Linked DNA regions of Homo sapiens: region 2 is linked to region 1. The links come from fine-mapping of genetic effects on gene expression. Tissue or cell type: whole blood. Region 1 holds a variant in brackets; the other region holds the start of a gene. All regions are shown on one strand. Distances are between the middles of the regions.

The links. PIP is the estimated chance that this variant, and not a neighbour inherited with it, causes the effect.
Region 2: C20orf203 starts here. The variant in region 1 is fine-mapped to the expression of C20orf203 in whole blood (TOPMed, PIP above 0.99).

What each region holds. Positions count from the first base shown.
Region 1 is chr20:32,704,671-32,709,670 of GRCh38, forward strand. It overlaps COMMD7 (COMM domain containing 7), which reads right to left. Exons shown (of 9, transcript NM_053041.3): 4 at 2,034-2,090; 5 at 1,913-1,950; 6 at 144-234. Among named protein-coding and RNA genes, the nearest start is that of C20orf203, 33 kb to the left of the region's middle. RefSeq lists enhancers at 835-1,582, 4,192-4,698. The variant A/C (reference allele first, on the strand shown) is at 2,218.
Region 2 is chr20:32,671,683-32,676,873 of GRCh38, forward strand. C20orf203 (chromosome 20 open reading frame 203) reads right to left here and starts at 2,259. Exons shown (of 6, transcript NM_182584.4): 1 at 1,950-2,259. RefSeq lists enhancers at 507-1,006, 2,957-3,026, 3,878-4,580.

The DNA.
Region 1 (5,000 bases):
ATGTGGACAGAATACAAAACAGCAGCTGCTGCCCCAACAGTGCTAGGGACTAGGTCATGCCTTCCCCATAGTGGCTGTGTCACAGCCTCTGCACCCCAACCCTGTACCACCCAAATAACCCAGGACTGGTTGTAACTAGTTACCTCCAAATTTCCACTCCATATCTATGAGCTGGTTAATCATCAGAGTCTGACCTATGGCCCATCGAGCAAGGGTGGGAGCATTCTGCTTCCACTGGAACAAAAGCAAAAGACAAAGTCAATTACAATAGGAAAATCTCCCCCTCTCCATCCTGCCCTAAACATTGCAATATTTAGCATTGACACAGATAGTGGGGAGGGTGCAGAAGATAGTGGGGAGGGTGCAGAACGAAGGGCTCAGTCTATATGCACATACCTAGGGATGGAGGAGGGCACAGAGTGGCAGACCACAACATTAATGTTGTATTTTTCATTCCAAGATTTAATCCATCTTGGAAAAAAAACAGTGCTGCCATCATACTGGCCCCCACATGGCTTCTACTAGACAATTGCAAGATGGGGTCTTCAGGGTAAGTTCTCAATCAGTCACTTGTTATTTTTCTCTATTTTTGTCACAGTGACATCTGAGAGCAGTGAATTGGAGAAAGGAGGCATATATATGTGTATATATATACATACATATATATGTATATATATATGTGTGTGTGTATATATATATATATATATTTTTTTTTTTCTTTGAGATGGAGTCTCGCTCTGTTGCCCAGGCTAGAGTGCAGTGGCATGATCTTGGCTCGCTGCAAGCTCCACCTCCTGGGTTCACGCCACTCTCCTGCCTCAGCCTCCCAAGTAGCTGGGACCACAGGCGCCCACCACCATGCCCAGCTAATTTTTTATATTTTTAGTAGAGATGGGGTTTCACCATGTTAGGCAGGATGATCTCGATCTCCTGACCTCGTGATCCGCCCGCCTTGGCCTCCCAAAGTGTTGGGATTACAGGCGTGAGCCACCGGGCCTGGCCAGTAGGAGGTATATTTTTACAAGTAAGTCCTCTCCTGATCCATGAAAATGGGCAGATTTTTGACTGGGTCAAATCAGGAGAAATGATTAGAGATACACTGAATAGTGCTGGTTAAAGCTGTGTGTATGACATGCGCTTGAAGCCAGATGAAAACCTTAGGCTGGGGAAATGATGATACTGATAGGTGGTTTGGCCTTACTTGGCATTTCCCATTGTTTTCTCTCTTCATGATATAAAAGCAAGGGGCTGGCGGTGGTGGTTCACGACTGTAATCCCAGCACTTTCAGAGGCTGAGGCAGGTGGATCACCTGAGGTCGGGAGTTCAAGACCAGCCTGACCAACATGGTGAAACCCCGTCTCTACTAAAAATGCAAAATTAGCCAGGCATGGTGGCACATGCCTGTAATCCCAGCTACTTGGAAGGCTGGGGCAGGAGAATTGCTTGAACCAAGGAGGTGGAGGTTGCAGTGAGCCGAGATTGTGCCATTGCACTCTAGCCTGGGCAACGAGAGCGAAACTCTGTCTCAAAAAAAAAAAAAAAGAAAGAAAGAAAGAAAGAGGTCGAGCACAGTAGCTCATGCCTGTAATCCCAGCACTTTGGGAGGCCAAGGTGGGTGGATCACAATGTCAGGAGTTCGAGACCAGCCTGGCTAACACAGCGAAACCCCGTCTCTACTAAAAATACAAAAAATTAGCTGGGCATGGTGGCATGTGCCTGTAGTCCCAGCTACTGGGGAGGCTGAGGCAGAAGAATCACTTGAACCCGAGAGGCAGAGGTTGTGGTGAGCCGAGATCACACTGCCACTGCACTCCAGCCTGGACAGAATGCGACTCCATCTCAAAAAAAAAAAAAAGAAAGAAAAGCAAGGGATCTTAATCAGCCATTAACCTTGATTAAGAGGAATTATACCTTTTCAGAAAAGTAAGTGGCTTTCTCCTCACTAAGACCTATAAGAGAACAGAAGGAGATATTAACATAATAAAAAGCCTCAGAAGCCAGTCACCCTGAGCAACCCTGGCCAATGACCTACCCAGAGTTATGAAATCCGCCTGGACCTGCTTGGCTGTGAGACTCTTCTTCAAAGCACCTGGGAGGCAGGGGAGAAATCAGTTAGAAAGGCAGACCAGTGAATTAGTCGGCAATAAGTATTTAATGGGCACAACCTATGTGACCTAAAGGACAAAAGGAACACCCAAAGACTGGCCAGCTCCAAG[A/C]TCTCAATCCAGCCATGGGGAAATAGCATCCGAAATGACCAGAAAACAAGAAAGACAGTACATTTTACAATTTATTTATTTTATTTAAAAAATATATTTATTTTTGCCGGGCACGGTAGCTCAAGCCTGTAATCCCAGCACTTTGGGAGGCCGAGGCAGGTGGATCACGACATCAGGAGATCGAGACCATCCTGGCTAACATGGTGAAACCCTGTCTCTATTAAAAATACAAAAAAAAAAAAAAAAATTAGCCAGGCATGGTGGCAGGCACCTATAGTCCCAGCTACTCGGGAGGCTGAGGCAGGAGAATGGCGTGAACCCGGGAGGCGGAGCTTGCAGTGAGCCGAGATCACGCCACTGCACTCCAGCCTGGGCAACAGAGCGAGACTCCGTCTCAAAAAAAAAAAATATATATATATATACTTATCTCAAAATATATATATATTTTTTGAGACGGAGTCTCGCTCTGTTGCCCAGGCTGGAGTGCAGTGGCGTGATCTCGGCTCACTGCAACCTACACCTCCTGGGTTCAAGTGATTTTCATGCCTCAGCCTCCTGAACAGCTGGGACTACAGGCGTGCGCCACCACACCAAACCAATTTTTGTATTTTTAGTAGAGACTGGGTTTTACCATGTTGACCAGGCTGGTCTTGAACTATTGACCTCAAGTGATCTGCTCACCTTGGCCTCCCAAAGTGCTAGGATTAAAGGGGTGAGAGCCACCATGCCTGGCACATATTTTTTTTTTAATTGTACAACACAATTATTTATCCCTCCAACCAGTGTGAGAGAAGTCAGAGACAACAGAAAAGACTTCACGGACTTGGGGATGGAGCAACTGGTCTGAGGAATGAGTAAGGATACGAATTCCTGGAGCAAGAGGCAGGGGAGTGTAATGTCAGGTTGGGCACAGGGGGCAACCACCTAGAGCTCCACAATGCATTATGTAGCCACTATTGCATGTGGTTATGCAAATTTTAATTAAATAAAATTTAAAATTCCATTCCTCAGTCTCACTAGCTATTTCCTGTGTCAAACAGTCACACAAGGCCAGTGACCATTATACTGAACACTGAAGATTACAGACCATTTACATCTGCAAAGAAAGTTCTATTGGATGGCATTGTCCTAAGAAGTTAGCTTTCACACAGTACACCAAGATGGACTAAACAGACTAACCTCTACAATTCACAAGTCACTTCCAGAGGGGCTGTCAAAACTTCTCAGAAGCCCTAGGAACACTTCCCTGTGGTGGTCACCTTGTTTTGCTAGGCTCCAATTCCTGAAAACAAAGCCAGCAATCTGGGCTTCTCAATGTTTAACCTGCAGGCTACATCCCCAGTCACAATTTGGCAACCACTCTCAAATTTTCCACTTTTTAGTTCACCAGAAAATGACTAATTAAAGAATAGGAAGATGCCAACCACCATCAAGGGAAGGCCCTGAACCTATACCCTAAACCCAAGTCCCCACCCCCAACTCACTCCAGAAAAACAATCCTAAAGGCTGTTGTACCGGTAAAATCAACCATATAAACAAAGGGAGGAAATCTTTTATCTCCAAAATCAGACTGAGCAAGGAAGCCACACGGAATAAAAAAGGCAAGACCCCGGGAAACCTTAGCCATAAAGGCCCTCTGAGAAGGTGGCTACTTCCCAGCCAATCCAAATAACTCCTAACTACCATGAATACAGTGTCTTAGTTTATATCCAATTCAAACCCAATGCTTTATTTGACAATCCCCAAACACTGGGCTTTATTATTGTAACTTTTTTTTTTTTTTTGAGACAGTGAGACACGGTTTCACTCTATCGCCCAGGCTGGAGTGCAGTTGGGCAATCTCAGCTCACCTCCTACCACACCGGGGTGGGTGGGTGGGGCTCAAGCAATCCTCCCACCTCAGCCTCCCACATAGCTGGGACTACAGGCGTGTGCCATGATGCCCAGCTAATTTTTTGAATTTTTGTAGGGACAGGGTCTTGCCATGTTGCCCAGGCTGGTCTCAAACTCCTGACCTCAAGCAATCCACCCACCTTGGCCTCCCAAAGTGCTGGGATTACAGACATGAGCCACCATGCCCAGCTATTATTTTAACTTAGTTTACCAGGAAACATTAAGCATTTTTGGGAGAAAATTTGGCAAATGCAGATAGTCAAGAATTGCACTGCCAAGAATTCACCCAACCAAGCTGCACCCAAAAGCACGCTGAGATATACAGGGGAAGCTCTTTAGCAATGTGGATAGTAGGGATGAAAGGTCATGGAGAGACCAGGCACGGTGGCTCATGCCTGTAATGCCAGCACTTTGGGAGGCTGAGGGGGTGGATCACTTGAGGTCAGTAGTTCGAGACCAGCCTGGCCAACGTGGCAAAACCCCGTCTCTACTAAAAGTACAAAAATTAGCCGGGTGTGGTGGCATGCGCCTGTAGTCCCAGCTACTTGGGAGGCTGAGGGTGCAGTGAGCAGAGACGGCACCACTGCATTACAGCCTGGCAACAGAGCAACTCTGTCTCAAAAAAAAAAAAAAACAGGCTGGGCGCCTGTTACAAAATTAGCCAGGAGGGTGAGGCAGGAGAATCATCTGAGCCTGGCAGGTGGAGGTTGCCGTGAGCCGAGATCTGCCACTGCACTCAAGCCTGGGCGACAGAGCGAGACTCCGTCTCAAAAACAAACGATGACAAAAACAACAAACAAAAACCTCAGGTCAGACCATGCTATTTTTTCTGCTCAAAACCCTCTACTATCTCCTATTTCACTCACAGTAAAATCCAAAGGTTGTACAAC
Region 2 (5,191 bases), 33 kb before region 1:
TACAAAATTAGCCGGGCGTGGTGGCGCACACCTATAATCCCAGCTACTCGGGAGGCTGAGGCAGGAGAATTGCTTGAACCCAGGAGTTGGAGGTTAAGGTGAGCCGAGATCGTGCCATTGCACTCCAGCCTGGGCAACAAGAGTGAAACTCTGTCTCCAAAAAAAAAAAAAAAAAAAAAAAATAGTAGAATGGGGGTTGGGTTGCCAGGGGCTGAGGGGGAGTGGGGAACAGAGAGTTGCTGTTCAATGGGTATAGAGTTTCAGTCACACAGATAAAAATGTCCGGAGGTCTTCTGCACAACATTGTGGTTATAGTTAACAATACTGTAGCGTGCACTTAAAAATTTAAGAGGAGCCGGGGCAGTGGCTCACGCCTGTAATCCCAGCACTCCGGGAGGCCAAGGCAGGCGGATCACAAGGTCAGGAGTTCGAGACCAGCCTGACCAACACAGTGAAACCCCATCTCTACTAATAATACAAAAAATTAGCTGGGCATGGTGGTGGGCGCCCAGTAGCTATTACAGTAGCTAGCTGTAATCCTAGCTACTTGGGAGGCTGAGGCAGGAGAATCGCTTGAACCCAGGAGATGGAGGTTGCAGTGAGCCGAGATCCCACCACTGCACACCAGCCCAGGTGACAATGCAAGACTCTGTCTCAAAAAAATAAAATAAAATAAAATAAATACACACACATAAAATATATTACATATATATTATACATACATACATACATACATATGTATTAGCTGGGTGTGGTGGCGCATGCCTGTAGTCCTAGCTACTCAAGAGGCTGAGGCAGGAGGACTGCTTGAGCCTAGAAGGTCAAGGTTACAATGAGCTATGATTGCATCATTACACTTCAGTCTGGGTGACAGAGCAAGACAATATCTCCAAAAAAAAAAAAATACTTCTTCAATTTAAATAGCTTTAGTTTTGTGGGAAAAACCAAGAACCACAGTGTGCCTGTCTCTATTTCTTGCTCTTGTTCCCTTTTATTCCCTCCTGAATTTCTCACCACACCAGGCCTTTTTGTTCTGGGACTCTTCCTCCTCTACCCTCCCCACTCCCTCCCCTGCCTCCCCCAAGCTCACAGCATTTCACACAGTTCCAGAAAAGTGCTTCTCTCCCTGACTGCCACCTGGCCCTGCTGTCTTCCCACAGGGCTGTGGGCTCCGGCAGCAGAGACCTTTTCCTACTCCCTGTGCCCCTGCATCTAAACAGACCCAGCATAGGAGAGGGGCCTGGTGAAGATGGCTGGTAGGAAGGCACTAGACTCGGGCTTTGAGAGCCAGAAGGCCTCAGGGAGTGAAGAATATGGGACTGGCAGGATCTAGGGGCTGAAATGAGTGGCCATAAAAGAAGCCCCCTCAAGACCCAAGACTCCTTGGTAGTAAGGGCTGGGCATCTCTCTGTGTCCCACCTCACACCCTGGGGCGGGTGAGGAGAGGAAGTGGAGGGGTTGCAGGGTTGGGGGAACAAGCGACAAGCCCGCCCTCCTGAGGAGCCCCAGGGCTGGTACAAACGGCAGGAAGAGGCTGAGCTGGGCCCCTGGAGCCACAGAGGCAGGAGGGAGTGAAGAGGCCCTGTGGCTGCCATGGGGGACAGTCCAGCAGCCTCCTCCTGCTCCCCTCAAGACTGGCCGGAGGTGTCTCAGCCCCCGTAGCCAACCACAGAGAGAGCACAGGGCGGAAGTGGCTGGCGCCTCAGCCATAGCTGCCGGAGATGGGCTCAACGGCCACACGGTCCCCACATTCGGGGAGCCTCACCGCAGCCCCGTGGGCACAGAGACCCAGGTGGAGCTCCAAGGGACACATGAGGCACAGGGAGTCTAGGGCAGCAGCTTCAAAACCACACACTGGTCTTTCTGCTGGCTTTTTTGGTCACCATCCCCTGCTTAAAACCCCAGGGTCACCCCACACTTTCAGCACAGACAGGCTGCATTCCACCCACCTGCAGGCTCCTCTGCCCGGCATTCATCTGTGCCACCTGCCCCGGCCATTTGGCTCCGACTGCAATGACACGTTTGTCTGGGAGATTCTTCAAGGGCACATAAAACATATCTGCCTTTGCTCACTGTGATGTCTCCGACGCAAAGCAGAGAGCCCGCCAGCGTAGCCACTCAGAGCTGAGTGGTGGTGGAATGAGTGAAAAGGCTGCAGCTGGAAGGGCTGGGAGGCGGGGGGCAGAGTGGGGGCAGCCAAGGGTTTTGGGGATCACACAGGCTTGGGAAGAAAAGTCAGCTCAGACCCACTGGCTATGTGACCTGGCCCTGCAGGTCCAACTGTCAATGGGTCTAACCCCGCCCACCTCAATGATCTGTGAGAGCTGAGCGGGGGAGACACTGTTCAGAAAAGACTGGGTCCCTGAAACTGTTGTTGTCGTTTAATCCAGCCATTTTTTTTAAGTTTGTTTAAGAGACAGGGGTCTCCCTATATTTCCCAGGCTAGTCTTGAACTCCTGAGCTCAAGCAATCCTCCCACCCTGGCCTCCCAAAGTGCTGGGATTACAGGCGTGAGCCACCGTGAGCTTGGCCCCAGCTCTTTCATTTATGGACAGGACATTTCAGGAGAGGGATCCATCCAGTCTCATCTTGGTGTTTAATATTTAAATGCACCAAAAATGGGGTGCCAATTGGTGCCAACTTTTTGGAAAGAGACTTTGATGTAATCTGCCTAAAAGTAAAATGCTCATGTTCAGCAACTCAGCCCTTCAGCTTCTAGGAATTTTGTTCTGCAGGGAAAAAAAAATGCTGTATTTGTATTATTAATATTGTTACTGGGTGGCAGGGGGAGGAAAGTATTCAGTGTTTTCAGAACCACCCACCAGGAGGCGCTTTTGCATCAGGGGCCCAATCAGGTTAGCCCAGAGCACCTGGATTTAAGTAGCAAAAACAAATGACAATCTCTAGCCCAATGTCTCAAGAACATTCCAGTCTTTTACTTCATCTCACCCTCGAAACTTCCTTTTTTTTTTTTTAGACAGAGTCTCACTCTGTCACCACGGCTGGAGTGCAGTGGTGCAATCACAGCTCACTGCAGCGTCGACCTCCCAGACTCAAGCAATCCTCCCACCTCAGCTTCCTAGGTAGCTGGGACTAGGTGCACATCACCATGCCTAGCTAATTTTTGTATTATTATTTTTTTTTTTGTAGAGATAGGGATCTTGCCATTTTGCCTAGGCTGGTCTTGAACTCCTGGGCTCAAGCAATCCTCCTGCCTCGGGCCTCCCAGTTCTGGGATTACAGGAGTGAGCCACTGCGCCTGGCCATGACCAAAACTTTTATTAGAGACAGTATCTACTTGCTTGGTGCCCTCTCTGCCCTTCCTCCTAAAGAATCCCCCTTCAAAAGGAAAAAAAGGCCATTCAAATTTGAGAGAGACTCAGGGGTCCAGAGTAAACTAAGTTAAATGAAATCAAACCTGGACCGTGGGCTTCAAGTGTGTTATTAACCCCCTCCCTCCTGTCCTGCTGCATCCTTGGCTCTGCCCTTTCACTTACGTCCACGTCTCTAAACCCAGCCGTTCTTCCTTCTCCCTTGGGTCTCTGTGTCTTCTGTCTGCCTCAGGTGTCCTTCCACACGCTACCCACCCGCCTAGGGAATACTCCTTCTGAGTTCCTGGGCAAACCACCCAGTTCTCCTCCTGAACCCTCCCCCAAAAGGCTCCCTGCACGTTCCATCTCATGAGGGCCAGGCTGTGCCCAGGTGAGGACACTCATCACCTCCACTTTTCCCATCACACTGGTGTGTGGAGCGCCCACCCCACCTGGGATGTAGAGGGATGCTCCTTGCCCAGCAGTGCTTCTCCCTGGGCCTCAGTTTCCCAGTCTAGGGTACCCCCACACCTCTCTCAGCTTGGGCGTGCTGTACTTTACCCCATGTCAGCAGTTCTCATTAAGCTAGTCTTTAAAGGAGGAAAAAATAATTTTAAAAAATCTTCCTTTGTTCTGGCCTCCGGTCTATTTACAATGACAGTTCATGAGGAACTGGGTTCTGAGCGAAAACAAACAAAATGCCTCCATTTTAGAAGGGGTAAGGTCTGGAGGGGAAAGAGGGAGATAGGAAAGAACCTGTGGTGGCCTATCCTCTCCCCGTGACAGGAAGGCCTTTGAACAACACAATTCTGATTGTGCTGTTGCTACCTCATTTCAAATCCTTCCCCCTGCCCCACCCTCCAGAAGCAGCACCTGGCATGGTAGGCAAAGCCCCATCAGCTCTGGCCTGCACGACTGGCGCTCCAGCTTTGGCTGTCCTCCCGCAGCCCTGGGATCCCTAAGCCTAGAATACGCCACGCCCATTCCCCCACCTTCCCCACCAGCCGAATTCCCCTTCCGCTGGGGAGACTCAGGTTGGGGGTCAATCTTCAAGAAGCCTCCCTGTCCAACCCACTGAGGCAGGTGGCCTCAGGGTCAGGGCTCCAGGTTTCCCCCACGCCCACCCCACTAACACACACACACACACACACACACACACACACACACAGCCACCTGGGAATTCCAGGGAGCACAGCTGCGAGGGCAGCAAGGACCACAACAATGCTGACCACAATAGTGGCTCCAGGAAGGCCTGTTCTTGTTCCGGGCGGGAGGCCTAAGGCAGTGATGCTCCCTGGCAGCCTCTGGAAGCCCAGGGGAAGCCAGTTTCTATGTGGGATTCCCTGACTCTGGCCCATGGGCTTAGGAACACATTGTGTCCCTCCACTCCCAGGGCACTGAGTCCCAGCTGTGGGGTCATCTGAGTCCCACAGCACACCTGCTCATTTGTTCATTCATTAGTTTATTCATTCATTCAACAAATATTTATTCAGTGCCAGGCTTTGGGCCAAGAAGAGAAAGCCACTAAAAAGAGCAACAGATAAATACACGGTTGCACGTGATGTCAAGTGTCATAAGGCATGATGGGGTGTGAGAGGATGCAGAGCCAGGTGGCCAGGGAAGGCCTCCTAGAGATGATGCTTGAGCTGAGATGTGACAAATGAGGAGGTGTTAGCCTGGGAGGCCACTGGAGGCCGGAGCAGCAGAGGGAGTGCAGGCATGGAGCGGCTGGCCAGACACGAGGCAAGAGGAGAAACAGAGGCTGGATCATGCAGGACTGTATGATAGGTGGGGAAACCGAGGCATGGAAACTGGTGACTTGCACATGGCCCTGCAACTAGTTAGATGCTCGCTTCCTAAGTGCCACCCACCCCAGGAAC